4 linked regions of the Homo sapiens genome follow. The protein of the gene in region 1 purifies or fractionates together with the protein of each later gene. This does not show direct contact. Each region holds a gene or a part of one and is shown in the gene's direction. Other genes may lie near its edges.

Region 1 (7,033 bases):
ATGCTTTGTTTTAATCTTAATGCACATTAAAGACATTTGTTGTTAATGATGTCCTTTGCTTTGGCTTCCAAGAAAAAGCAGCTGAGATATATATATATGTATATATATATATTTTTTTTTTGAGACAGGCTCTTGTTTTGTTGCCCAGTCTGGAGTGCAGTGGCACAATCACAGTTTACTGCATCCTTCATCTCCTGGACTCAAGCAATCCTCTCACCTAAGCCCTCTGAATAGCTGGGACCACAAGCATGTGCTACTATGCCTAGCTGATATTTTAAATTATTTGTAGACACAAAGTCTCGCCATGTTGCCCAGGCTGGTCTTGAATTCCTGGGCTTAAGTAATCCTCCCGCCTCAGGCTCCCAAAGTGTTGGCATTACATGCGTGAGCCTGACCTTCAGAGATCAATTTATGGCCTTTTGTCTATCTTCTATTAGCCCTGATTTGTCATCTTAAACTTTCTGTTGCATCTCTGCAGGGAGCCCTCAGATTCTTTCTGGGATATCAGAATCATCAAAATATGATAATTTAATTCCATTGTAACTTCAGAGATATTTTTATATTCATTTACTGTGCCAGGAGGGGAGGTAGAGGCTCTTGGGAACATTTACTGCCTGTTTAAACTGTACATTAACTCAGACACCCAGAGTGGTTAGTTTCTTAGCTTTTTACTAGATGGTTGAGTCCAATATGGAGAAGAGGATTTTGATAATAGCATTAGCTGTCTACCTTACTGAACAAGTTTGTTGGCCTAATCAAACCTACGCTTTGGGGAACTCTTAAGTTACAGTAGATTTCCTCATAGGGAAACTCTATTAAATCTTCTTAAGCAATGAAAGAAAAAGCTGTCCATTAAGAACTTTCGTGGAATAATATGGTTCAATATTTTTTTCCATAATGTGGCATCAGAATAATATTAGATTTTTAAATTATTTGTCAGTGTTAGATATTATGTGCTTTTTGTTGCTGTGGTACATACTGTGTGTCTTATCATAAAACATTTTGGAACAAAACGGTAAGCTTAATTTATATGATTAAAGTAAATCAGTTTATGTGGTTAAAAAATACGGGCACAAGGAGATGTTTTGAAAATGTGGAGAATTGTAATTTTCTGAACTCCCTTTAGGGATATATACTTGTTAAGGCTGATTTCTCAGTTATATGTTTTTAGAAACATAGTATTTGCCATTTTGAATCTTTAGTGATTAAAAACAATCAATTTAAAGTTGAAAAAAACTAATTAGACTTCTGACCATATTTAAGGTACATTTTAAGAGGTGAATACTTCCATGTGTCCCAGACTTTTTGAAAACTAGAGATCCTCAGAAATAAATGGTAAAAGACAGGCTATAGAAAATTTTCCCCTCAACAGGAAAGTTATATCTAGATCTAATTTTTACCACTTTTAACAATTTGGAGAATTTGCTATCTGACTTGCAAGTCCAAACAAATTTGGTAGAATTTGTTCTTGATGGGAATAAATTTAAAAATGCAAAGGAGAGAGTCCAGTGATTGGCAAGAGAAAATAGTAGAAAAGGAAATAGAGCGAAAATAAAAATTTTGACAATGGAGGGCAGCAATTAACAGAGAGGAAATTACAGCCTCAGAATGCACACCTGTATTTAGTAGGATGTTGGAATATGAAATGTTTGTATATCAGAGGGCTGATGGCATGTGCTTTGATAATGCAGTCATGGTAGGCATAGCTTTGCAATTTAAATTATAGGGAAGAAATGGAAGCAATATTTGTTTTATTGTAGAGATATTTGGATTTTTGTAACATGTGAATATTAAGATCTTTCCCCAGCTGTATTGGAGGATATGTTAATCCTCCAATGAAATCATTCATGATCTTTGGGATCATGAGGAAATCTAGGAAGTCAGTGACTCAGGCATAAAATTAGAAAGGCTTGAACATTTTTAAATTGTACTAAAGTTATAGAGAAGGGAAGTCTTAAGTGGGCAAGGGATGGTAAGTGGGAACTGACTATGTACTTGAAAACATTTCAGATGTCATGATGTGCTTTTTATAGGGCTGTCTTTGTTAGCACAAAATAATTTGTGGAGTGTTTCAAGGTCTACTTGAGATAAACTCTTACTAACTCATGATTTCCAGAAAAGCCTTAAATTCCTCAAAGGTCTTGCTGGAAGGAAACCTAGCTCAAGGGGAGGGGAGGTCTATAGTCTTTGGGATTAGAAAGACTCAGGTTTGAAAGTTAGTTTTGCTATTTAATTCATGCTTGTGTCAGTGATTTCACTTTGGACCATGGCTTGTCTCTAACAAGTATACAGTAATTTTTCAGTTTTTGTGAAGTTTAGATATAATGGGTTTGGCATCCAACCTATGGTAGCTGCTGTTATTTGTCATTTTAGGAGCCTAATCTAGTGACTGTGGAAGGATCTATGGTATTTTAATTGTTTTGCTTCTATAAAGTTTTAAAGGCAGTATTGTTCAGAACTGAAATATAGATGAAGAGAAATTCATCTAATTTGCATCCACTTTTCATTGCCTATTTCTCCAAGTGACTTCTATATCATCTTAGGCATGCATACTTTTGTAAAGTCCTTTATCTGCATAATAGCTTTTAACATTATTTTATTTAAAATACAACTTACTAGGTTTTTCTCTTAAATTTATAGCATTGTTTTATGATAGACTATTTTTCCATATCCTTATAAACTTTAAAAAGATTGTAGAGGTGAGGCGGGTATTTAAATATTTGAATTTTTCTATCTAAATGCAAGTTATCAGAAATGGCAAACTGGTTCCTTTTTTATGTTTTTTAACACTTGGAATATATCACAAGGAAAATATCTTGTGTATGTTAAAATGAGCATTATTTTCAGGCCTTTTTGGGGAATATTTAAAGTTTCTGTAATAGAGCTGTAGTATGTGTTACAATTGTAGTGGTCCCAAAATTTCCATTTGTCTAGCATTTGCTGTCTTATTTAATTTCACAAAGATAAATTTATTTGGAGACTACTAAAACTAGTAAGTGTAGAAGAGCTCTACAGAGACTTAAAACTTAACATTATGATCATTGTTGGGTATGTTGGTTCTAGCTTGTTTATTAATAAAAATTTTTATGACAATGCAAAGTAGTGAGCTTAAACTCAGGGATATTTTTCAATGTGTATTGTGATCTGGTTTTATTTTAAAATTTATTGCAAACACATTTTGTTTTTATTTCTCACTGCTTTTATTATTTTTTAAGCATCTAATTAGGTGAAACTGAATTGATTCAATTTTTATGTTACAGGAGATTACCTGGGGCAATTGATGTTATCGGTCAGACTATAACTATCAGCCGAGTAGAAGGCAGGCGACGGGCAAATGAGAACAGCAACATACAGGTTTAGTATTTTAAAATAAATAATTTTCTTTAACTGAAGGATGATATCAACATTATAATTTAATTTATTCAATAGATAGTCATAGTGCTATGCTGTGTTTTAGGTGATACAAAGAGATTTAAAATGTGAAGCCAGTCATTTATTATAAAGGCATTTCCAGTTAGAATTTATAATCTCTGAATCTTTTTTTAATAGGGTTTTCTTTCTTTTCCTTGGTAGAAACATAGTACAGGTTGAGTATCTCTTATCTGAAATGCTTGGGACCAGAAGTGTATCAGATTTTGAAATGTTTGGATTTTGAAATGTTCATACGTATGTAATCTTAGAGATGAGACCCAAGTCTAAACATGAAATTTATGTTTCATAAATAAGTTATTTAATTTGTTATAATGATTTGTTAATTTATGATAATCTTTTTTCCTTTGGCAACCCTGAGTAAACTGTGTAGTGGGCCTGAGTTTTGATTGTGATCCGTCACATGTGAGGTTGGGTGTGGAATTTTCCACTTGTGATAAAATGTTGATGCTCAAAATGTTTCGGATTTTAGAGCATTTCAGATTTCAGATTTTTGGATTAGGAATACTCAACTTGTATATAGGTTTACTGAATGAAAAATAAAAGACCACCAGTGATTTTACCACCTAAAGATAACCACATCTGGTACATCTCTTGATACTAAGCAAAATTGGGATACTATTATAATTATATTTCTGTGTATACTTTTTTCCCCATCTAAAATTATCATTTGTATGTTTTCATATTCTTAAAATATGATTAAAATATCTTCATGATAGCTTCATTGGATAAATATACCATGATTTATTTAATGTGACATTTCTGGAGGTGGCGTAGAGCTGCTTTGTTTTTAGGTGAAAAATTGAGGGGAGATAAATTATCAGTAAGTTGGATAATTAATGTTAGAACTTTAATAACTGAGACTTCCAGCTATTCATTTTGGCCATACTTTTTTTCATTATTTATTCCTATTTTCTGAGTCCTTTTAAAAATGTCCAGAGCACTTTATTCTTACCTTTGATAAGTTGATCATGTAAAATATTCCTTTTAGCATCTTTAAAGGCAAATCATTTCTATAGTGGAAGATGTTAGTCCATTTTTCCTTTCCCCTTACCATTAAAATGCCACGATTTCTCAAAATAAATACTTTAAGAAATAGCTTATCAGCATAAGCCCTACAAAAAACACTGCACTTAAATGTAGGAAGTGTTAATGGAAAGAGGGATTGTATGTTTAAAAGATTGCTTTAGTCAGCAAGGATCTGAGAAGTATAAATTAAATATACAACATTATGTTGGCTGTCTTTCCCAAATTTATTTACACATCCTTGGGGAGCTTATCAAAAATCCAGATTTTGAGGTGCCACTTTGCTTGTTTTATTTCAGTAGGTTTGGGGTGCTTCTTATGGTGCCTGTCCCTTAACCTGTTCACACAAAGAAGCATTTTGCAAACATTGCTTTATTTTTCAAGAATAAACCCTGGTCTTAAAGTTACAAGGCTCACATGATAAAGTTACTTACATATCTTGCTGCCTATTGCTTGCAGTCTGTTGACACATGCCTGACAGTTTCTTACTTTGCAACCTGGTGATGACAGGCCCTTGTACAGTGAATGTCTGACCTGCTGCCATGTTAATTTCTTAAGGCCAGTGTCTGTGATTAATGATTACATTGCCTTAATTGAATACTTCAACTTTGGTTGGGTGACAAAGATAATACTTGTTAAATGATCTTTATGAAGTACTTTTTTCTTGTGTGGAGTGTTTGTATTAATTACTTTTTATTAAGAAATTTTTGGTAATGATCCAGTTGTTTTTTCTTAAGATTTGAATATGCACATTTTTAAAACTGTATGTATGTGTATACTCACACAGGCGTATGTATACACATATCACACATGTAGAACTATTACTCTCCCCCCAAAAATACATATATGTGAATTAAACTACCTTTTACTTTGTTTCTTAGATTAAATGAAATTAATTTACTAAGATTAATCTTACATAATATTTATGCATCTGTTTAATTAACTGTGCTCTAATTTTAGGTCCTTTCTGAAAGATCTGCTACTGAAGTAGACAACAATTTTAGCAAACCACCTCCGTTTTTCCCTCCAGGAGCTCCTCCCACTCACCTTCCACCTCCTCCATTTCTTCCACCTCCTCCGACTGTCAGCACTGCTCCACCTCTGATTCCACCACCGGGTAAATAGTAAATAAGACATTTGACTTTGAAAGAAAAATAGCTTGCGAGTGTTTTTTAAAATTTTTGACAATTAAAATAATATCTTGATCACATTTCATTAAAAGTAATAGATATAATATCTTCAACAGATTCACACTGAAACAGATATATATATGTTTATTGCTATTTCAATATAGGAAAGAGACAATGTTCTAAAATTAAGAAGAATATACAGATACCAATCTTGTGATTCAAAAATATGATAATGATCCCCAAACTTAAGTTGCTAATAGAATATGTATAAATCCATACTCAGTTACAAACTTTACCAGTGTTAATTTGTTTTGAAAAAAACATTAAAAGATACTTTCAGGATGGGAGTAGATCAAAAAATTATATCTTGCGAAGAGATTGATTAATATTTCAGTCTGGTCTTCTTCTGTATACCGGTTTCCTTTTAGGAGACTGCTACTGGGTGCCTGGTATTTATTTCTTTTAAACAAAAGTAAATGTTGATCATATTTTTAGCTACTTTTGATTACAATTAAAAACCAGGTTAGTGGTGATAGAGAAGAAACTCACAAATAATTCCCAAATTTTATTTTTATTTGAATTTTTCATCGGGTTGCCTTTCTTACTTTGTTTTTAACCTTTATCTGCCTTAACCAAGTTTTTATGAAACTAGCAAGATTGATTGAGATAATAATTACTTCTTCCCAGGGAGAAAGCTAGTAGTAAATGATGAAAAAATAGCTGCTTGTCCTCATCAGGGCAACATGAAAGACGTATGTTAGGCTTTACTTCCTATTAATCAAATCAGTTTATACTAGAGAGCCATGTACTCTCACTCACTTTTATTTGCAAGAGAGCTGTCTTTGTTTTAAGGTGCCAGTTGTGATCCGAGTACAGAACCAAATCCAGGGTCTGAATAGTCCTTCCCTAACATATTCATCCTTGGCCTCTAAATGTCAGCCACTGCTTCTGTCTTTCATCTTCAGTGCCTTTGATTTCCTTCCACTGTCACCTCTACTCTCAAAAAGTATGAGAAAAATATGAAAAAATGACTTGTGGCTTTAGAGGGTCTGTTGTCTCAACAATAGTGGAAGGAAGAGGTTGGAATATAGGTTAGAGGTCCTTATTCCAGACAACATTAGTATTTCTAATTTCAGTGAATTTCTAGTTCCAACAAATAGATTGAGCAGAAACGACTCATTAGTTGGGATTGACTTGTGGTTCTTGTGTCTTTAATATGCTGAGTATTAACCAAATGAAAGAGGACTTAGGTGATTCAAAATGAGGACTTCTGTGATTTCTATGTGAATCCTTTGTCCTCTGAAAAAGAATTAGATAAATAAAAGGTAGAAATAATTAATGTTTCAACATATTTGATTAATGATACTAAAAAAATTATTAATGTTTGTGGTACTCTGTTGGATTCCTTTGTAATATTACTTAAACTTTACTAGGTAGTGATTTGAAAT
Region 2 (7,000 bases), on another chromosome or scaffold:
ATTGCTGCAATGTACGAATGTACTTTTTTTTTACACATTTGTGATTGTTTCAGTAGGATAAATTCCTAGAAGTAGAAATACTGTGTCAAATGTCAAATTTTATTTTTAGATGTTAGCAAATTGCCTTTTAACATAGTTGCACTAATTTTCCAACAGATAATGGAAGAAGGTACTCTTTCCCCATGTATGGCATTGCCAATCTCATAGATGAAAACAATTATGTTTTTTATATTTTGTGCTTTTCAAAAATTAGTAAAATTAAGGATCTTTTCATGGCCAGTAGTTATTTGTCTTTCTTATTTTGTAAATTGCCTTTTTAAGTATCTTGTGCTTTTTCATGTGTTGATCATCCTTTTCTTAACTAATTTGGAAGAGCTCTTAGGAAAAAATCATTTTTATTGGTCGTAGTGCTGAAAATATTTTTCTGTTTCTTTTTTGTTTTTCTTTTCAGTTTCTTATTTTGAGATTTAAAATGTCAAAGGGAGTTTTTCTTTATTCATGTTGCTGTATTTATTTATGTTTCCCATTATGGCTTTTGGGCCTCACCTACTCCAAATTATAAAAATGCTTATCTGTATTTTCTTTTCCTGATTGGTGATTTTTAACCAGTTTGATTGTTTGGTTGATTGAGACAGGGTCTTGCTCTGTCAGACTGAAGTGATCCTCAGTCTCAGACTCAAGTGATACTCAGTCTCTGAGTAGCTGGGACTACAGGTGCATGCTACCACTACTGGCTTTTTTTTTTTTTTTTCTGAGACAGAGTATTGCTTTGTCACCCAGGCTGGAGTACAGTGGTGTGAGCACAGCTCACTGCAGCCTTGACCTCCCAGGCTCAAGTGATCTTCCACTTTAACCACCTGAGTAGCGGGGACAACAGGCACATGCCACCACTCCTGGCTTTTTTTTTTTTTTTTTTTTATGTGGAGACAAAGTCTCATTATGTTGCCCAGGCTAGTCTCAAACTCAAGTGATTTTCCTGCCTTGCAAAGTGCTAGGATTATAGGTGTGAGCCACCGTGCCCAGCCTCCCAGCTAATTTTTAAATTATTCCTAGAGACAGAGTCAACCTATGTTGCCCAGGCTGGTCTTGAACTCCTGGCCTCAAGCAGTCCTCCCACAGTGCTAGGATTATAGGTGTGAGCTACTGTGCCTGGCCAACCAGTTTGATTTAAATTAAACCCATTCTAGATGATGTGTGACAGCTCAATTTTAATACTAATCTAAATAGGACCTATAATTGTATGTAATGGAAACTTGATTAATTTCAGAGGAAACAATCAGTTTAAAGATGATAGAGCAATTTAGAGATGTGATGTATCTCATATCCCACTGCTTTAACCCCCTAATATTAACATATTAACATTTCCTTTTGTCTTTTATTTTTTTTTAGTTGAGGAAACGTGTGAAGCTTGAAGGGAAAGAACTTGAAGAATACTTGGAAAAAGAGAAACTAAAGAAAGAAGCTGCCAAAAAGCTTGAGCAGTCAAAAGAGTGAGTCATTTTCAGACAGATTATAAATTTATGGATGCAATTTGAGAAGAATGTGTCCTTGACTTAAATGTTTCATTGAAAATATTTTTAAATTTTCGTAAGACTTAATTTTGTTACAGACATCTTTCAAATGTCTAGAATACCAGATCCTGTCAGTGCTAATATTATTATGCATTTATTTGTTATGTTTTATAAAATGTCAGTCCAATAAAGTTGAATGTTATTCCAGTCATGCATCACTTAATGATGGGGACAGTTCTGAGAAAAGTGTCGTTAGGGGATTTAGTCATTGTGCAAACATTAGGATATATGTTTACACAAACCTTGATGGTATAGCCTACTGTGTATCCAGAGTATATGATATGGCCCATTGTTCCTAGGCTACAAACCTGTACAGCATGTTACTGTACTGAATACTGTAGGCCATTGTAACACAATGTTAAGTATTTGTGTATCTAAATGTATCTAAACATAGAAAAGGTACAGTAATCTTATGGGACCTCTGTTGTATATGTGGTCTATTGTTGTTGACCGACATAACTGTATATTATCATTTAATATTGAATTAATAATATTGAGTATGGATTCAGTAATAAATTGATAAATATTAATTTAAAATATCTTTGAAACTTTATGACCTTGATCTATTCTAAAATCCTCCTAGGGCAGATATAGATTCCAGTGATGAGAGTGATATTGAGGAAGATATTGACCAGCCATCAGCTCATAAGACGAAGCATGACTTGATGATGAAAGGTGAAGGCAGTCGTAAAGGAAGTTTTTTCAAACAGGCAAAAAAGTCCTATCCTATGTTTCCTGCCCCAGAAGAAAGAATTAAATGGGATGAATATGGAGAGATTATCAAGTATGTGAGCAAAACAAACTTTTCTCTCTTACAAATTGGAGGTATTAACTGTGTTATCATTTCATTTCAGTGAATTTGATCTTTCACTTGATCTTTCTAGTCACATGTATGGGGTTAGCTTCTGAGTACCTCAGCCTGAAGACACAGAAGACTTGTAACTTGAAACATAAAAATAGAGATGCTGAGAAACATCTAGAGAATATTGAGAGAAAACTGGCAGTTTATGACTTAGTTGTGTAAAGGTTTAAAAACATGATCACGTGATCAAGACTTTTTTCCCCCACTTAAAAAGAGAGGAAGATGTAGGATAGGAAGAACTTTGGGGCTGTGTGTGGTGGCTCATGCCTGTAATCCCAACACTTTGGGAGGCCGAGATGGGAGGATCACTTGAGCTCAGGAGTTTGAGACCAGCCCAGGCAATATAGTGAGACCCCCATCTCTATCTTTAAAAAAAAAAAAAGAACTTTGGATGGCTGGTGATTGCATTTCCAATGGATTATGTCTTAAGTATTATACAAGTTTTATGAGATTAAGAGGAATGTGAGATAGCATGAGTGAAATCATGGAAAAATCTACAAAATCTATACTGACTATTAGAAAAACAACTGCAATCACATGTTGTAATTGCAAATTTGAAAACACTACTATCCTGTGTGGAAAATAAAAAAAGAAAAACATGATACAGGCCAGGTGTGGTGGCTCACGCCTGTAATCCCAGCACTTTGGGAGGCCGAGGCAGGTGGATCATGAGGTCAGGAGTTCAGGACCAGCCTGGCCAAGATGGTGAAACCACATCTCCACTAAAAATACAAAAAAATTAGCCGGGCGTGATGGCAGGCACCTGTAATCCTAGCTACTCTGGGGGCTGAGGCAGAGAATTGCTTGAACAGGGAGGCGGAGGTTGCAGTGAGCCGAGATGGCGCCACCACACTCCAGCCTGGGTGACAGAGGGAGACTCTACCTCAAAAAAAACCAAAAAACGCAATACATACAGCCATCTGGTAATTGATATGAAATTGCATCAGCTTTGGATGAAATGTATATTTAAATCTTGAGATATGTGAGGACTCCAAAAATTATGCCACCTACTAGTCATATATGTTATGTAGTATTAGCTTGCTTTTTACTGCTTCTAATTAGAGACTTATTATTTAGACCAGAGGATTTCTTAGTGCCAGAGCTTCAAGCTACTGAAGAAGAAAAAAGCAAATTAGAATCTGGTTTGACAAATGGAGATGAACCTATGGATCAGGATTTATCTGATGTTCCTACTAAATGTATTTCTACAACAGAGTCTATTGAAATAAAGTAAGTGCTTTTGTGACATTTTGAAAATAGATTATAAGATAAAATTTCAAGCATTTGAATTATATAATTTACATTATGTCAAGCAAAATTTCTGAATATTCTTTAGTAAGTTTGTGCTTTTAAAATTTATTTTTGTATGAAGAGACTTGTGAAGTATGGTGGCATGATATTTTCTCTTCATTAATGGTATTTGAATGCCAAAGTAATTGAATTGGTGGTGGTGGGGGGTGCTTAAATTGTAACATTAAATTGTACATTTATATGAAGAAAAATTATTTTTGGCCTTTTTATTCTGTAAGCAGGTGAAAGGGAATAATGTGACTCACAGTTTAATTTTTCTGAGTAACTGCTTGTTTCATAAAATATACTCCTTAACTTAAACATCTCTAAGACCCTAATGTCTGGAAAATACTGTTGTGATCTGAAGTAGTTAGAAACCTTTTTTCTCCCGCTTTCTACTTAGTTAAATAATACCAGTAAGTGATCATTTTGGAATTTCTTTTAAGTCATCAGAGAACAAAGTTTTTTATTTGTCCAGTAATATCATTTAGTATATATTTTTGGGTGTAGATAAAATCTAAATAATACAGATAGGGCCGGGCACGGTGGCTGATGCCTGTAATCCCAGCACTTTGGTAGGCCGAGATAGGCTGATCACTCGAGATCAGGAGTTTGAGACCAGCCTGGCCAACATGGTGAAATCTCATCTCTACTGAAAATGCAAAATTATCCCTGCGTGGTGGTGCATGCCTATAATCCCAGTTACTTGGGAGGCTGAGTCAGGAGAATCACTTGAACCTGGGAGGTAGAGGTTGCAATGAGCGAAGATCATGCTACTGCACTCTAGCCTGGGCAAAAGAGCGAGACCCAATCTCAGAAAAATAAAAACAAAAATAAAATAAATCATACAGATACTATAACATGTGTATTTCTCAAATCCTAGTGTTATATATTGTATACATGATAAAAGCCATTTTTTTTTAGAATTATGAGAAAAGTAATCTTGAATAATCATATCTAATTACAGAGCCCGGGTTACCTACATAGACTATGAAGGACGCTCTGATGGGGATTCCATTAAAAAAATCATTAATCAGATGAAACCACGACAGTTGATCATCGTCCATGGCCCACCAGAGGCCAGTCAAGATCTGGCAGAGTGCTGTCGCGCCTTTGGTGGGAAAGATATTAAAGTGTACATGCCAAAGCTACATGAAACAGTTGATGCCACTAGTGAAACTCACATCTACCAGGTAAACATGCCAGGAGTTGCCATTGAGTAGAAATAAGTACTTTTTGTTGCAGGTTAGGACAGATAACATTAGAAATACCGAGATGTGTGAGACAGACATGGATGGTCTCCTGCCCTAGCAGACCTCATAGGGTATGGGGCTTAGAACAAGGAAATACCATTTATCATGTTGTTGTGCCACTGAGAGAAGAAGTACAGGATGCTATGAGAGTATCAAGAGGGGAAACCACCCACATTTAGAGGTTTAGAAAAGGTTTCCTACAGGAAGTGATAACTAATCCTAACTGATGTTTAGATGGGTTGTCAGGACAGACAGAGTAGGAAAGGGGGGGAAGAGCGTTCTAGGCAGAGGGAACCATATTTGCAAAAGTACAGAGGTGAGGAAAATGATTAAGAATTCAAAAGTTTTAGAAGAATTCCCGGATATCAAGGTTCTACTCCTAATTGGAACAAATGGAGATGGATACCAAATATAGGACTAGCACAGTAGAGAGATAAATTTTGTCTGGTAATGGGAGATGGTGTCAGTTTAAGGCCAGAGTGATGTCTATATCTGGAAGAAATGGATGTGCACATACCAGGCAGGAAATTTATTCTGGGCAGAGTAAGAAGAAGCAACCTTCCAAGAATATGGAGATGTGAAATTCTGTGGTATATTCAGGAAAGGACAAGCAGTTCAGTACCTACTGAAGTATGCCAAGTACTAGAGGATGGGAGTGATCAGTGGTTCTCAACCTTGACTGCACATAAGAATCATCTGGGGAGCTTCGTGAGGGTCAGAGGGACTCAGTTTTTCTGGTCTTAATCTTACCAGTTATGTTAGAAACACTGGATATGACGCTCTGATATACTTTTTGTTTTAATTGCCATGTGATTCCATTTTGTAGTCAGGGTTAAGAATCTCTATTTTGGAAAGTAGGCAGGGGCCCAATGATCTGCAGGTAATGAGGTCATTGCAGGTCATTGTGGGACTCAGATGAGTGAAAGATTTTCCAATTTTAACATATTACCAGAGGTAGAAAATGATAATAGGTTATATTTAATTTGTTAATATGTATTCTGTGGGTTTTATTTCTCTCCCCCTCCTTTGCATGTCTAGGTGAGGTTAAAAGACTCACTTGTCAGCTCTCTTCAGTTTTGTAAGGCAAAAGATGCTGAATTAGCTTGGATAGATGGTGTCTTAGATATGAGAGTTTCCAAAGTGGACACAGGGGTTATTTTAGAAGAAGGAGAACTAAAGGATGATGGAGAAGACTCAGAGATGCAAGTGGAAGCTCCCTCAGATTCTAGCGTTATAGCACAACAAAAGGCCATGAAAAGTCTGTTCGGAGATGATGAAAAAGAAACAGGTGAAGAAAGTGAGATCATTCCTACTTTGGAACCCTTGCCACCTCATGAGGTAAAAAAAGCATGTGCTTTTTTGATTTCTTCCTGAATTTGTCATCCTTCTAGTTTTCATGTCTTTTGGTTTTTTTCCCCCCTTCTAAAACTAAGTGGGTCTGTGGAACCTTTTATATTTTTAACCATTTAAAATATATGTCAGCTGGGGGCAGTGACTCACGCCTGTAATCCCAGCACTTTGGGAGGCTGAGGTGGGAGAATTGCTTGAGGCCAGGAGCTCTACATCAGCCTGATTATAGGGACACCCTGTCAGAAACCTAGTCGGCATGGTGGCATGCACCTGTAATCTCAGCTTAGAAGGCTGAGGCAGGAGGATTGCTTGAGCTCAGGAGTTCGAGACTACAGTGAGCCACAATTGTGCCACTGCATCTAGCCTATATGATAGAGTGAGACCCTGTCTTGAACATAAAATATGTCTCACATTTGGGCTGATTTTGGAGTTTTTAAAAAAGAGAACTTGTGACATGCTTCTGTGTGTATGTCTCTGTGTATATATTAATTCTATATAGCTAAGGAATGACATATCTTTAGCAAATCTTTTAAGGTACATAATTGTTTCATGATTTTTTTTTTTTGGTCTGGATTTTTAAATTTTAAGTTTGATGATTGTGAGGATCACCTGCCTGCTTCCAGTCAGGAGATTTATAGTTTTCTAAGAAAGTCATACTGTTTTTTTTTTGTTTT
Region 3 (7,900 bases), on another chromosome or scaffold:
TTTTTTTTAAGAGACAGAGTCTTGCTCTTACCCAGGCTGGAGTGCAGTGGCACAAACATGGCTCTGCAGTCTTGACCTCACACCTCAGCCTCCCCGAGTAGCTGGGACTACAGGCATGTGCCACTACACCCAGCTAATTTCATTTTTTGTAGAGACAGGATCTTGCCATGTTGGCCAGGCTGGTCTCAAACTCCTGCTCTCAGGCGATCCTCCCGCCTTGGCCTCCCAAAGTGCTGGGATTACAGCTGTGAGCCACCATGCCCAGCCAGGAAAAGCAACTTTGATATTGGTTACAGTTACATCAGGAAATGCAACATTAAATCACTTTATGCAAAATAGAAATAAAAATCATCAATTAACTTTTCCCTTGGATACTATTCCTTTTCATTCTTTCCTATTAAATTATAGAAAGTTAACCCAATAAGCAAAAAAGGCAGAAACCTTCTTGTCCTACAGGTGTGAAAAGCACTTTTCTCAAAATTTTCAGACACGTCACCTAGTTCTCAAAATTTTAAGGGCCTTACTTCTCTTCAATTGAGTCAAGATTTTAGCAAAATATACTATGACACATTGGCTTTTCAGTCGAGATACTAAGATTCAGTAACCCTCTCAGTTTCACATTCTATACTTGGTAGGGCTAAGATATACACACCTCTCAGAAATGTGCATTTTTCTTGAAGTTTTGAAATACCTTTAAGTAAAAGCTGACACAAAGACATTCCCAGGTGCCAGCACCTCACCTCCCCTCTCTATTAAGCGTAGTTAAGGAGATGACCTTGCCTCCCAGAGTCTGTGTTACATATTTCTTTTTTTGAAATTAATAATAATAAATGCATTGGAAACTAAGATTCATCCTTGCCAGTTGCATAAGGACAGCATATACTATACTTGGCAAATTAACTAACCTACATGAAGCTGCACAGCTCACAGAACTCCCGGGACAGTTCTACTGTCATAGCCTCATGATAACCTTGTGACATATCCATTTGCTCTACTGATGCTTTTTAAGGGCATACCATATGCCACACACTCTGCAGGGCTCTAAGCTCTCCCTCAAGGGGCTCACAGAAGGTGGGCTGTAATCTGCCTTTTACAGATGAGGGAACTGTGACCTGCCTCTCAAGACGATTTATGAATAAGATAACCTGATCAATTTTTTACCAAAAACTGTATTCTCCAGAGAGAACAAGAAAATCTGCTTACTATAGAATTGAACACTATTTGACTGTCTTCAAAGGTCCCACATACAGCGGTCTGCACAGAGAGTTTCCTTTCATTCTGACCTGGGTGATGCTTTTCAGAGAAACTACGCACCTGATGAAGGAAAAAGAACGAGCAACTCACGCAGCAGTCAGTGAAAGCTCCTGCTGCAACCCAAAGATTCTCCGTATTTGGAGACCCCACTCTAAGTCCACTTACTAGGGGACGACATTAGGCCACTTGCCCAAGTCTGACCACTGAGCCCAAGCTTTTTAATCAGCCTCATCATCCAATTTACTTCTATATTTTTGCTTTATTTGTGGGGTACCAGGAAAATCTGATTTATTCATTCATTCCTGGATAGTCAGTGAGCACCTACCAGGTGTCGGGGATGCATCAGTGAACCAAACAGAGCCCCTGACCTCAGGGAGCCTGTTCTTAGCGAGAGTAGACAGACCAACAAGAAAAACACACATGAAACATATTATTAGGAAACCACTGCTATGAGGAAAACTAACACAAGTTGAGGAGACACAGACTAATGGAAGGAAGGGGTGGGTATTTCAGAAAAAGATGCTGTAGCTCTTTTTCTGAAAGAAGTGCGGGCAGCCATAAATAGCCTGGAGGCAATGCCGTGCGGGTGGAGAGGGGCCCGAGGGAACAGTCAAGGCTGTCCGGGAGCAGGAGGACAGCAATGGGCCCAAAGTGCCACAGAAGGCCAGGCAGGCCGCGGTAACAGTGGACTTTAGTTTAAGAGGAATACTCTGAAGGCTTTTTATTTATTTTTTGCTTATCTGCTGTGATCTTCTGGAATGGAGGCTTTTAAAAAGCAGTTTAGCGACACAATCAGGTGTCTTCTGTTTTTTAAACGATGACCCTGGCTGCCAGATAGCGAACTAACTCCACTGGATAAGGGTAAAAAGTGAGAGATGTGTTGGAAGAAGACTGCGGGTGATTGCTGCAAAGGGGAACCTTACCAGCACAGGACACTTGTCAGTGAGAGATGGCAGGAGAGCCTTATTCCAAGGCCTGCACGAAACTAGGTTAACGTAGCAGCATAAAGTGCCATGTTAATGGCGCTCACGGGTTAAAATGTTGATGTGTAACATATTTAAACATCAGATACTTAAGTATATATAAATACATATTTATATATAGGTAACAATTTTAAATATGATTTGAATTTTAAATCAAAACTTATTTTAAAAACAAAATGTGATTCTACTGTCAGTGGAATCCTGAAGTGTCTCCTCAAATCCCTTGATATGAAAATCATGACACGACAATGCCTTAGCAACTCCTTAAGGCTTTCTTTTCATCATCAACCCAGCGGCTTAGGAAAAAGCAGCATTTATTAAAGTCTTTGATATCTGCTGCAATTTTGATGCATGTTCTCAAGCAAATCATTCTTGCCTCAAAATTATTCATGGGTGGCTCACGCCTGTAATCCCAGCACTTTGGGAGGCCAAGTCGGGCGGATCACGAGGTCAGGAGATCGAGACCATCCTGGCTAACATGGTGAAACCCCGTCTCTACTAAAAATACAAAAAATTGGCTGTGCGTGGTGGTGGGCGCCTGTAGTCCCAGCTACTCAGGAGCCTGAGGCAGGAGAATGGCGTGAACCCGGGAGGCGGAGCTTGCAGTGAGCCGAGATCGCGCCACTGCACTCCAGCCTGGACGAAAGAGCGAGACTCCGTCTCAAAAAAAAAAAAAAAAAATTATTCATGCATCAAAATGAGGCCAATGATCCTGATTGGCGATTGGATGCTCCGCAGGCTCATCAAATGCAAAGATGTCTCAAGCTGAACCCATCATCCTCCCCTCCAGATCTGCTCCTCTCCTCTCCTCTCCCTGTCAGGAGATTCTATTATTGCTGGAGGAAGCCAGAAAATCATGATTTCCTTGCTGTCCTTCAGGCCCCACATCCAATCTGGCACCAAGACCCACTGTATACCCCACCTGAAGAGCTCTCTGAGCCAGCTCTCCACCAGGGCCCCCGTCATCCTAAACCATGGGCACAGACACTATTTTTTTAGAAACTGATGAATGTGATGGATCCTCACCCTATAAAAATGCACATCCATACAAAGTTTGGCATGAATTTAAGGAATTCACAAACCCAAGGATATTTCGTGGATAAGGGACCTTGTCCTACTGGATTCCCTAACACTTTAAATCTACCCCCACACTGCAGCCAAAACGATTAAAATGATTTCTTTCAAACATGAATCTAATGCCACTAGCCTGCTGAAAATCTTTCACTGGTTCTCCAAAGTCAGAGACCAAAGTCAACGTTCTTCAGCACGACACGCCAGGTCCTCCAGGACCCAGCTCCTAATCACCTTTCCACTTCCATCCTCCACAACCCGGGCACAGTTCATTGATCTCAGCAAGGCAAAGCTGCTCCTGGTTCTCAGCGCGATGCTCCACGCGCCCCTGCTTTGCACCGCCCGGGACGTCCTTCACCTGTCAGGCACTTGGCTACTTCTTACCTTTCAAGGCCCGTTTCAGGCTGCAGGCCTTCCTGGGATCTCAAGGCTGGGGTAAGGGACCCACAGCTTGAGTGTACCCCCTGATCACAGCGCCACGATCTGCTGTGGTCTCTGATCTCACTCTCCCAGCTGCACGCTGGTCAAAGGCGGAGCTCGGTGACTCCTCTGCATTGCCAGGGCGCCTGGCAGGGGACGCGCTTACTGAAGCCGAGAACTTTCTGGGGAGGTGACACCCCAACAGCGATTCCCATGTACCAAACGCCTACCACGTGCCATGCACGGTGCTAGGTGCACAGATCCCTCTCACCCTCACCCTCACCGACCAGCAAGGCTGCAGGATAACAGCCCCTTTCAAACGAGGATGCCAAAGCGCCCGAAGAGTCAGTGACCTGCCCAGGGTCACCAGAGTAAGGACGGATGCGGCCAAGCTCGGGGCCTAGGGAGAGCCGGCTCCGAAGTTCCTCCCAGACGCCAGCCTGCTTGGCACCTGTCTGTCACCGTGATGGAGCACCTTCCAAGCGCTGGGTGCGGAGGATGTGACAGCGAAGGGGACAGACAACCCCGACCCTGAGAGGCGGGAGGCGGCCGAAGCGGGGCAGAGGAAGAGGCAAGGAAACGGCCCGCGGCCGCCCGCCTTGCCGCCCCTCCGGGGCGACAGCGGCTCGGGAAGCTGCAGTCCGCAAGCCCACGCCCGATCTGCGTGGTTCCAAGCTCCTCCACCCGCGCCCCGGGAGCGCGGCCCCGCCCGGAACCAAGCCCGAGCCCAGGCATCCCTCCTCCGCCCGCCCCGCGGCCCCACCCATCCTTCCTGGCCGTCCGCGCCGCTCTCGGGACCGTGTTCCCGTCAGGCCTCCGCGAGCTCGGCCCCAAGCGGGACGAGGGCTGGGCGCTCACCTCGCAGCCGCGGGCCCATCCCCGGGTTGCGGACTTCGGGGTCCGCGTGGGAGTGCCGCGGCCTTTGGCGCCCAGGCAGCTACTCCCGTTCCCGCTCCAGCGCCGGCTTTTCCAGCCCTCCTGCCCACGTCCGCCGGGCCGCGCCTCCAAGACTATGCGCAGGCGCAGTCCTGACGTCCTACCCCCGGTTCCAAGACCCCAAGTGGTGGGAAGCCTCGCGAGCGGCGTCCCCCGACCGGAAGTCGAGGGGAGGAGTCTAGTGCCGCGGGCTCCGGAGTGACGGAAGTTGTGCTCTTGGTGAATGGGGTTCTTCCTTTTTTATTTACCGGTGGCTGTGCTTCCAATTTAGGAAGACCCCGGCGACCTGTTCCTCACCCCCGCTTCGCCCTCACACTTTCGGGATGTCTGCGATTCCTGCTGAGGAGAGCGACCAGCTGCTGATCCGACCCCTGTAAGGGACCAGCGAGAGAGGGAATGAAGCCACGGGCTGTGAGGGGCGCGAGGGGTAACCGGAGACTGGCCTCCTCCGTCGCCCGCGCTCCCACCTACCCCGGCAGCCTGCCTTTGGTCCGCGCTTGCGGGCCAGGCTTCTCAGGCTCGAGGGGTTGGAGGACCGTTGATCGGAAGGGGCCTGCTATAGAGTGAACGGGATTTTGCTTTTTCATCAGTTTCAGGGGAGGGTATGTTGGAGTCGGAAAAAAAAAAGTTTTACGGGGCCACCGCTCGCTTTCGTACACGCTAAGAAGCGTTTTCACTTAGCACAAGCACGGATCTCTGCGCGTCAGGGCAAGCTGTGAGGGAGCCGGTGAAGCTTATGACCGACAGGATGAGAGGAGGACCTGAATGAGGCTACAGCCGTGCAGGGAAGAATTAAGTCTGTTTCTTAACACCAGGGCTTCACATGTGCCAGAAGTTAGAAAATATTAGGGACTTGCCGTGAGTTTCGATCTTCTCAGCTCAGGCCCTAGTAGAATAAGGAAGGTGTAAAGCTGGAGAAGAGAAAGTGCAGAGGTGTTAGGGACAAAAACTCAGCCCTCGACTGTCCATAAGGAGAGTGGCCTTTCAGTGGACACGATCCTCATCAGTCGGGAATGCTGCTGAAGGGGAGATGCAAATGTAGAGAACTTGAATTCCTACAGATGAGCATTTCGAACCCACAACATGTTTATTGTTAGATACTAGTTGGCACAACATGAATATACGCTTTCCAAAAGGTAGAAAGTATCTCCTTTACACAATCATTCAGTAAGGCTTCATTGAGCACCTGCTTGGGACATAGTCCGTTTCCTTCTGCTTAGTTCACACCTGTCATGTCTTCCTGTGATGAGCAAACACTGAGCAAGTGTCAAGCACCACACATGGGGATATAGACGCAACAGAGGGCCCAGTTAATTGCTCTCGCTCTTTTGGAGAGAATTACAGTGCACAGTGGGAAATATTGGAGAGATACTTTGGAATAATAGGAGACTATTACTTTGAAGTCAGACCTGAAGTCCATTATCTACTTGACCAATTAGTAGGACAACAATCTCACTGAACCCGTTTTCTCATATGGAAATAAGATAAAACTTGAAGAGTGAACATCGCGGTAGGTGCTTTGTAAATAATAGCTAATCTAAGAACGCAGGCAGGCATTGCACTGAGCACTGTGAAAGTATGGAAAAGGGATTTCTGACAGATTGAGGAAAAAAGGATACCTCGTGGATCCTGAAAAATGTGATGCCTGAGCTGAGTCCTAAAGAATGAGTAGGAGTTAAAGACTGGGGGGCCCAGGATGTTCTAGGCAGTGGAAGTGGCACATATGAAAGTGAGAGTGGTCACAGCTTGTGGCCAGATTCCTCATGGCTGTAGCTAAAGAGTTGAGTTAGCAGATGAAGCGACAGGCAGTTGAGGTCCAGTTTAGGAAGCACCTCGTATACACAGGAGTTTGGACCTTTATCAAGTCAATTACAGGGAGCCAGCGAAGGCTATTAAGCAAGCATGGATATTGTGGGAATTATGTTTTAGGAAAATCTCTCCTGGCAGCAGTGTAGCAGATGAATAAAAGCATGGATGAATAAAAGCATGGATTGAGTAGAGCAGATTCAGTGAGATATTGAAAGATTCTAAGTCTAGCTGACGAGAGCCTGTAGTGAGTGATGTGAGTGTGAGAGAGTATGCAAATGAGATCTTCAGGATTTTGTGGCTGATCAGCTGTATCTGGAAGGGTGGTTGTGGGGAGGGAAGGCAGGGCAGAGAGGATGTTATGATCAGATTCCTAAGTTTGGCAGTTGGGAAAGGGTAGTGTTATTCACTCAAGGAGTATAAGAGATGGGGCAACTCTGGAGTAAATTTGGGAATTTGGTTGTTTCGTAACAGCTTTATTGAGATACAGTTTACATACCATACAACTCACAATTTACATACCATACAACTCATTTAAAGAGTATAATTCAGTCGTTCTTAACATAGAGTTATACAACCATCACCTCTCTCTAATTCCAGCACATTTTCATCACTCCCAAGAGATACCTTGTATTCATTAGCAGTCATAGACAATCCCCACTACCTCTCCAGCCCTAAGCAACCACTAATCTACTTCTTTATAGATTTGCCTGTTCTGGACATTTCATGTAAGTGTGATCATACAATACATACTCTTTTGTCTCTGGCATCTTTCATTTAGCATAATCTTTCCAAGGTTCAAAATTGAGGAGTTTTGTTCATTCAATAAGTATTTTTTGTGATGTGCTACATGCCAGGTACTGTAGCAATACAGCAGTGAATAAGATGGACAATGCCTCTGTTCTTAGGAAGCTTTCATTTAGTAGCCTGAAAGAAGACATAAGTAGGTACAATAACTTCATGTAGTTGTATTAAGATAACTGATGCTGGGTTGTGGCTTGCTGTGAAGGGCAAATTAGAGGAGGTAGTCAAGGGAAAGCATCTGAGAAGGTGACGTTGGAACTGAGACCCAAATGATACAAAGGAGCCAACCACATCAATATCTGAAGACAAAGCATTTCAGGAAGAAAGTAGAGCAAGTACGGGGCATGTGGTGGAAACTAGTTTGGCATCTTGAATATGAAGTCCCGGGAGAGATCCTAGTAGAGATACCTAGTGTCACGTGTATGTATTAAAGGTCTAGAATTCAGAAGAACAATCTGGGTTACAAATACAGGCTTGGAAGTCCTTAGCATGTCAGAAAGATGAGAATGAAGATTGAGAAGTTGGCCAAGGAGCAAACCCTCGGAATATCAACATTTAAAGGGTAGGCAGAGGTGGCTGAATATGTGAAGGAAACAGGAAAGCCAGCAAGACAAGATGAGAGCATC
Region 4 (7,033 bases), on another chromosome or scaffold:
CAGTGGAACTGCTGATAATACCAGCTTCATATGGTGGCTGTGAAAATGAAATGAATGAAATGAAGTAATACTTGTATATACCTAAAAGCCTAAAAGAAGCTTAAAGTAACTCCACACTCTGGTGTGTTTCCTTCTGGTCTGTTTTTGCCTCTGATAGTATTAATAGGATTATATAATGTATCCTTTCAAAAATATATAGTTTTATTTTGTTTTCCTCCCAATTAACATTGTATCATGCTTTCTCATATCATATGCTTCTTTGAAACATGAACTTAGAGTGGCAAGGTGTTCTCTGAGATGGACATTCTGCTGTTTTCTCTTTACAGTTTCAGAAGAGGAGCCCCGCCGAGGCATGAGGGCCGTGCTCCCCCCAGAGGAAGGGATGGTTTTCCTGGTCCTGAAGACTTTGGTCCAGAGGAGAATTTTGATGCTTCTGAGGAAGCGGCCCGAGGACGAGATCTCAGAGGTCGAGGTCGGGGTACCCCACGAGGTGAGCGAGTTACTAAAGACACCTGGTCTGGAAGGATAGGGTGCAGAATACACTGGTTGTGAATACACCAGGAACAGTCTGAGTGCAGCATTGTTTGCTCTGTTGTGTAGGAGGAAGGAAGGGTTTACTTCCCACTCCTGACGAGTTCCCTCGCTTTGAAGGAGGGCGGAAGCCAGATTCCTGGGATGGAAACAGAGAGCCTGGTAAGGAAAAGAACCGCTTGTTGGGTAACTCTAGACTGCAGTTCACAAAGTGAGTTCTGAGGGCCCTCTCTGGGGTGCACCGGGTCTCCTCTTTCCAGCTCATGTCTCCCGGGGGGCTGGGCTGTCTCCTGTCCTGCAGCCGCAGCACTTGATCTCAGCAGGTGGAATGCAGAGCAGAGGAATCCGCCAGACATTACAGGGATCTATCTGAGTATAAAACGGGACTGCTCTTTCCACTAAATTGCTTTTGGAGAATAAAGTTAAGTGAATTAAAATTTCCCCAGTCTCAATTGCTAATATGGTAAATATTCGCAGTTACAACTCTCATTAACAAAATCTCTTAGGAGTCCTCAGTAATTTGAGACTGTAAAGACGTCTTGATACTACAATGCCTGAGAACGAGTTCTCTGGATCTTACCTGCCCCTCTTACATGAGGAGGCACCCTGATGTCTGGGTGGCTTACCCTTTGGCCTCTGGCGGGCATTCAGCATGAGTGAACGGTGGCTCTCGAGTTGCTCCTTACTCTCACAGTGTCATTCCCATCTACTTCTGGTCACACTGTGCTTTCCTGTAAGGAGATTTGTTTCTTGTTTCAGGGCCAGGTCATGAACATTTTCGTGATACTCCCCGCCCTGATCATCCCCCTCACGACGGTCATTCCCCAGCCAGCAGAGAACGCTCCTCTTCTCTCCAAGGCATGGACATGGCATCCCTACCTCCCCGAAAGCGCCCCTGGCATGATGGCCCAGGCACTTCTGAGCACAGAGAGATGGAGGCCCCAGGAGGCCCTTCTGAAGACCGAGGAGGCAAAGGTAAGAGCAGGCCAGTGGTTATGGTTCCAGGAGATGCAGGGGCCGATGGAGGCCTTGCCTGTATCTGCTGCACATGCCCTTGCAGCCTGGGCTGTGCAGAGGCACATGCTCCTAAATGTGGTGCCAGTGCCACACGAGCTGTCATCTGGTGGACTGCAACTCAGCCCTGCACAGGACTCCACTTGCCTCCGGGAATCCCTGTTCACTTGAGGTTTTCACTTCAGCCCTCTGCCAAGATGCCCCAGCACTCTCTGCTCGGCTTGCTGTCTGGGAGCCCTGCTCTCCTTGGCAGTCTGCCCTCCACAAGGCTGCTTGGAACCCTCAAGGGCTCTCAGTGGGAGGGGAAGAGTTGTCCTCTCCTGGGTGGTCTGTTGGTTTTTTTAGCCTGGGTCTAGAGGAACACTGCTTGTGCTCAAAGTCACAGAGACTTTGGGAAACATGGTCTATGGGCAGTGTTTCCAGGGGCACAGTAGATTATCTCCTCAACTGGGAACTGTGGAGCTTTATGTTATAGGCAGCACTAACTTTAGCCAGGAGTAGTTGCCTCTGAAGGCTGACTATACAACTCTGGTTGCAAGGCAGCGGGGGAGGTGCATAGGTGGTGTGGCTCGGAAGCTTCTGGGAAGGCTGCTCCCCGCATGCCCCAGCTTGTGCTCTGCTCCTGAAGTTGGCCTGTCTGTATGGACGGTCCTTCCAGTACAGAGTTCTGCCATTTGGTCTTTTTGGGTTTTTTTCTGTCGCCCAGGCTGGAGTGCAGTGGTGTGATCTTGGCTTACTGCAAGCAACCCCCGCCTCCCAGGTTCAAGTGATTCTTGTGCCTCAGTCTCCCCAGTAGCTGGAACTACAGGTGTGCGCCACCATGCTTTTGTGTTTTTAGAGAGATGGGCTTTTGCCATGTTGGCTAGGCTGGTCTCGAACTCCTGGCCTCAAGTGATCCACCTGCCTTGGCCTCTCATGAGCCACCATGCCTGGCCTGCCATTTGATCTTGATAGTTGTTTGTCTCAACAAAACCCTCAGAAATTACCTTATGTATCATCAATAGATCACCCTGCATAAACACATTGTACTACTAGCCAGTGTGCTGTGACCTTGGCTGACTTTCTTGGGCACTCAGCACACCATTATTAGGTCCCTCTGGTCAAGGACATGCAGTTAGCATGGGAATGATGTAGTAGCTGACACTCTGCCCAGGTGCCTCAGGTGGGTTGAAGCTGCACTTTCTAAGAAAAGAAGCCAAGATTGTTCCTTTGGCTGGCTCTCCTAACTTCATCTCAGCTAGATTCATATTCTATTACAAAATATGAGACAGCGGAGAGTTTGCAGTCATCTTCTGAGAGTGCATTATGGGAGATGTGACCAAATCCTATCATTTCCTGAGGAAAAAAATCTTACAAGATAGAATTTTTTTTCCTTTTCCTTTCTTTTTTTTCTTTTTTTTTTTTTTTTAAATATATTCTCAAGCTGCAACAGAATGAAAGAATTTTAATAGTACCTAAACATTTGTGCATACTAGTCTGAAGCAGGTTAAGCTGTGCCTCGGTGATAGAACCTGAAAGCCAGTGTTTTGTGGGGTTTTTGGGTTTTTGTGCTTTTCTTTTGTTTTTTCAAGAAATACTTTATTTTACTAATTATGAAAAGGAAGCCAAAAGTGCCACATGTCACGGGACAGTCCCAGTGAACGCTTGTCCTAGTTGGAGCACTTTTTATTAACATTAGCAGTGTGTACTTCCAAAGTTAAGTCAGTATATTCAAACCTTCCCTCAATATACCCTGGTGGCTGGGAGCAGGCAGATACACTTCCCATGGCCTGGGACATGGCCCAGTGTGGCCCGGGTCTCCCTGAAGGTGCTCCTTGCTCATCTCTTGGCTTCCTGTCGTCTGTCACACAGCCCTGGGGGCATGGATCTGGCTGATGCTGAGGCCCATGGCCATGAGCCAGGAAGGGGGAGGCAGGGTCAGGAAAGGGTAGAGGCACACCTCTCAGTACGCTGAATACCACTGCCAGTCTCCCTGGCACCCACCAGAACTGGTCCATTGTCATCAGAGAGTAAAGTTTGTACTGGGAGTTACTGACAAACAGTTGCTAATACAAAAAGTCCCATGTGAAATTTTCTTTGTTTCAGGCCGAGGGGGCCCAGGACCTGCTCAGAGAGTGCCCAAATCTGGGCGTTCCAGCTCCTTAGACGGAGAGCACCACGATGGATACCACAGAGATGAACCTTTTGGGGGCCCTCCAGGCAGTGGCACCCCTTCTCGAGGGGGCCGGAGTGGCAGTAACTGGGGTAGAGGGAGTAACATGAACTCTGGCCCGCCGAGGCGAGGAGCTTCACGGGGTGGTGGAAGGGGTCGGTAGAAGCTGGAACTGAGTACCCTGAGGCCTCTCTGGACAGTATGTAAGAACTTCTTGTGGACTCACCAAGAGAAACAAAAGGAAGCCTGCACCATTGTAGCCCTGAACTCTTTTCTGGGCACCTGAATCCCAGGAACCCTCAATGAGGTCTTCAAGATGAAGAGACTGCTGCCAGCTACCAGCCTGGCTGGCCCTGTCCTGTCCACCCTCATTGCCCCAACTCCCATGTTGTTTTGTGAAGATAAAAGCTGGGATCTTTTTCTTTTTTTTAAGTCTCACAAGACATGGGGCATCTCCACAAATTTAAGTTCCTGTCCATTTGGAAATTTGTTTCTATGTGTACAGTTTGTCAGAGAAAAACAAAGTTTTTGTATGAATACAGAATGTGATTTACGCAAGAATTGACAGAAAACTAGTTGTGAAGTGCTTGCCTTAAGGAAACCTTTGGTTTCCATCGCATCCCATCTGCCAAGGAATGCACGGTTGTTGCTGATGTTCATGAGCATATTAACCACTAGGTTATCTAAATTAATCTCAGCTGTGAACTTTGTGTTTTTCAACACATTCTGTCACACCATTTTTGTGACAGAAAAATACTTGAAAATTATTCTAATGTAGTTTGTAGTAGGTTCAAATTTTTATTCAGACATGCTCTGACAGATGGAAAATTGTACTCTGAAGAGAAAATGCAATCTTCTGGATGTCCAACGAGGGAGCTTCCCCTTGGAAGCATCTCCTAAGAATCACAGTTTAGGTTTGAATCGCCTTGTTATGATGAGGAGAGGAACTTGATGTTAGTCAGAAATAAAGTCACATGCCCTTTAGATAACTTGAAATCACACATGGAGTTGATAAGGAATGGACCAAAATAGGTCCTCAAACAATTTTGCAACACTTAATTAAGTTTTCCTCTCTTCCTCTTCCATACTATGTGGAAATACCAGTGTTACGGCAGGGCGTACTTCTAACTCACAGTAAGCCAGATAGATCTTGTCCATGGCAAATTCCTTGTTTAAAATAAACATACCATTTAGCCCAGTTTGGATTGGAAGCCAAAAATTCAGTTTGTTATATACCCCATGATACTTTCTATACTGACCTTTATTTTGGTTTTACATGGAAGCTTTTATTAAAAGGACTGTCCTATGGCCACCTTAACATTTCATTACATTGGCAGCTTCAGTTTTGGCATCAGTCAAATTTATTTGGCAAATTTAGTGGTGCTGGAAGTTTCTTTTTTTCTTTTCCTTTTTTGACAGAGTCTTGCTCTGTCACCCAGCCAGGAGTGCAGTGGTGCAATCACGGCTCACTTCAGCTTTGACCCTGCCTCAGCCTCCCTAGTAGCTAGGACTACAGGCATATGCCACCATGCCCAGCTAATTTTTTGTGTGTGTGTTTTTTGTAGAGATGGAGTTTCACCACTTTGTCTATGCTGGTTTCAAACTCCTGGGCTCAAGCGGTCCACCTGCTGTGGCCTCCCAAAGTGCTGGGATTGCAGATCTGAGCCACAGTACCTGGCCGCTGGTGCTGGAAGTTTCAATGGTTGCTTAGAAAAGGCATACTGATATAGTTTAACAGGATATGAAAATTTAACTGGTTCTCTATGAATGTAAAAAACAGCAAAAGCTAATTGATTTCTGTGGAGTGAGAAAATGTCAGCCATATACACTGCTTTTCAGTGTTAGAATCTAGAGACTATTTTTTTTTTAACTTTGAAATTACAGCTTATTTAATCAGCGCTCCACCATAAACATGCTATTAGGAGGCTCAAGATTGCTTTAGGTTATGGGTATTTCTTCACTCACCCCCAACTGGTATAGCTTAAAGAGAGAGAAACTGTAATCAAATTTCATGAAGCTAAAACCGGATCCAGAGACCAAACCCATATCAAGATTAGACTTTTTTTCCCTGAGATTCTAGTGGAAAAATTTTCATTATTTTGGGCTTTAACTTTAGAAACATAGTATCTCAGTAAGCAGATAACCAGATCACATTTAAAAATTTTCATTTTACCTTGAAGCTCTACTGGACTTGACAGATCACATTTTGAGAGTGAATTCATTTAAACAATAAACCTCTACATTATACTTATTAAATATATATGGCATTTAAAAACATCACTGTCAGCATACATACTAGATGTTGTGATTTGAAGCTTATAAAAAGTAGATTTTCAATGATGTTTGATTTGAGAAAAAATTTTTGAGACAAGGTCTCGCTGTTGCCTAGGCTGTGGTGCAGTGGTGTGATCACAGTTCACTGCAGCCTCAACCTCCTGGGCTCAAGTGATCTTCCCACCTCAGCCCCACCCCAAGTAGCTGGGATCACAGTTGTGTGCCACCATATCTGGCAAATTTTTTGAAGATTTTCTGTGGCGATGGGGTTTAACTGTGTTGCCCAGGCTGGTCTTGAACTCCTGGCCTCAAGTGATCCTCCCGCCTTGGCCTCCCAAAATGCTGGGATTACAGGTGTGAGCCACCAGCTGAGAAATGTTGAATTTTTAAGTTTTTATTTAAGAAATAAACATTGTAAAACATCATTATAAAACCCCCAACTATTGCAAGTTCTAGAGAAATTTAAAACTAGAACAGAAATTTAGGGGACTAGAAAGAGCAGCCAATGGCACAAGTCTTTACAATTAATTAAAAAAATAAATCATTCTGAAGATACTGCATTTGCTCTCTCACAAGCAGCCTCCTGAGGTAGGTAACCTTGTTTACTGATGGGGAACAAGGCAGTGTTCTTTACCAAATCTCAGGGCGGGTAGCCTGCAAGCCTACAGTGTGGATGTTGGCCACTTGTGTCACTTCTTGGGACGGGGCTTAGGGACCTGACTTACTTAGGAACATAAATTTTGGGGTTGGAGGAAGCAGCAGTGCTCTACTGCGGCACGACAGACACCCTGTTAAGGCAACACTGGGATCCAGCTCAGGAAAAGCATTACTTTCAAATTGTGCAAGCCAATGCACAGAAAAGTGGTCCTCAAACTTGGGGAACGTAGAATCACTTGGGGAGCTTTAAAAAGGTCCTGATGTCTGGGACCTACTTCCCAGGTTCTGACTGCATTGATCTGAGGTGTGGCTCTTCAAGTAACTGATGTGCAGTCAAGCGCGAGGACCACTGGCACACAATGTTTAAATTCTAAATATATTTTACTTCCTAGTGTATTGCTACTG

What was found.
Region 2: the proteins of FIP1L1 (region 1) and CPSF2 purify together in Homo sapiens (affinity purification with mass spectrometry; 7 studies listed by BioGRID and IntAct, with this or other methods). This does not show direct contact.
Region 3: the proteins of FIP1L1 (region 1) and CPSF3 purify together in Homo sapiens (affinity purification with mass spectrometry; 5 studies listed by BioGRID and IntAct, with this or other methods). This does not show direct contact.
Region 4: the proteins of FIP1L1 (region 1) and WDR33 purify together in Homo sapiens (affinity purification with mass spectrometry; 5 studies listed by BioGRID and IntAct, with this or other methods). This does not show direct contact.

Annotation. Positions count from the first base shown.
Region 1 is NC_000004.12:53,422,612-53,429,644, forward strand, and holds part of FIP1L1 (pre-mRNA 3'-end-processing factor FIP1), read left to right. Parts: intron 1-3,260; coding exon 3,261-3,354; intron 3,355-5,415; coding exon 5,416-5,572; intron 5,573-7,033.
Region 2 is NC_000014.9:92,152,969-92,159,968, forward strand, and holds part of CPSF2 (cleavage and polyadenylation specificity factor subunit 2), read left to right. Parts: intron 1-1,389; coding exon 1,390-1,490; intron 1,491-2,154; coding exon 2,155-2,355; intron 2,356-3,510; coding exon 3,511-3,663; intron 3,664-4,690; coding exon 4,691-4,916; intron 4,917-6,014; coding exon 6,015-6,314; intron 6,315-7,000. UniProt on the Homo sapiens protein: Component of the cleavage and polyadenylation specificity factor (CPSF) complex that play a key role in pre-mRNA 3'-end formation, recognizing the AAUAAA signal sequence and interacting with poly(A) polymerase and other factors to bring about cleavage and poly(A) addition.
Region 3 is NC_000002.12:9,418,787-9,426,686, forward strand, and holds the start of CPSF3 (cleavage and polyadenylation specificity factor subunit 3), read left to right. Parts: upstream 1-4,867; 5' UTR 4,868-4,987; coding exon 4,988-5,037; exon of another isoform or gene 5,038-5,429; coding exon of another isoform or gene 5,430-5,449; exon of another isoform or gene 5,450-6,174; intron 6,175-7,746; exon of another isoform or gene 7,747-7,774; coding exon of another isoform or gene 7,775-7,836; intron 7,837-7,900. UniProt on the Homo sapiens protein: Component of the cleavage and polyadenylation specificity factor (CPSF) complex that plays a key role in pre-mRNA 3'-end formation, recognizing the AAUAAA signal sequence and interacting with poly(A) polymerase and other factors to bring about cleavage and poly(A) addition.
Region 4 is NC_000002.12:127,703,150-127,710,182, reverse strand, and holds part of WDR33 (pre-mRNA 3' end processing protein WDR33), read left to right. Parts: intron 1-326; coding exon 327-490; intron 491-600; coding exon 601-693; intron 694-1,290; coding exon 1,291-1,506; intron 1,507-3,630; coding exon 3,631-3,860; 3' UTR 3,861-7,033. UniProt on the Homo sapiens protein: Essential for both cleavage and polyadenylation of pre-mRNA 3' ends.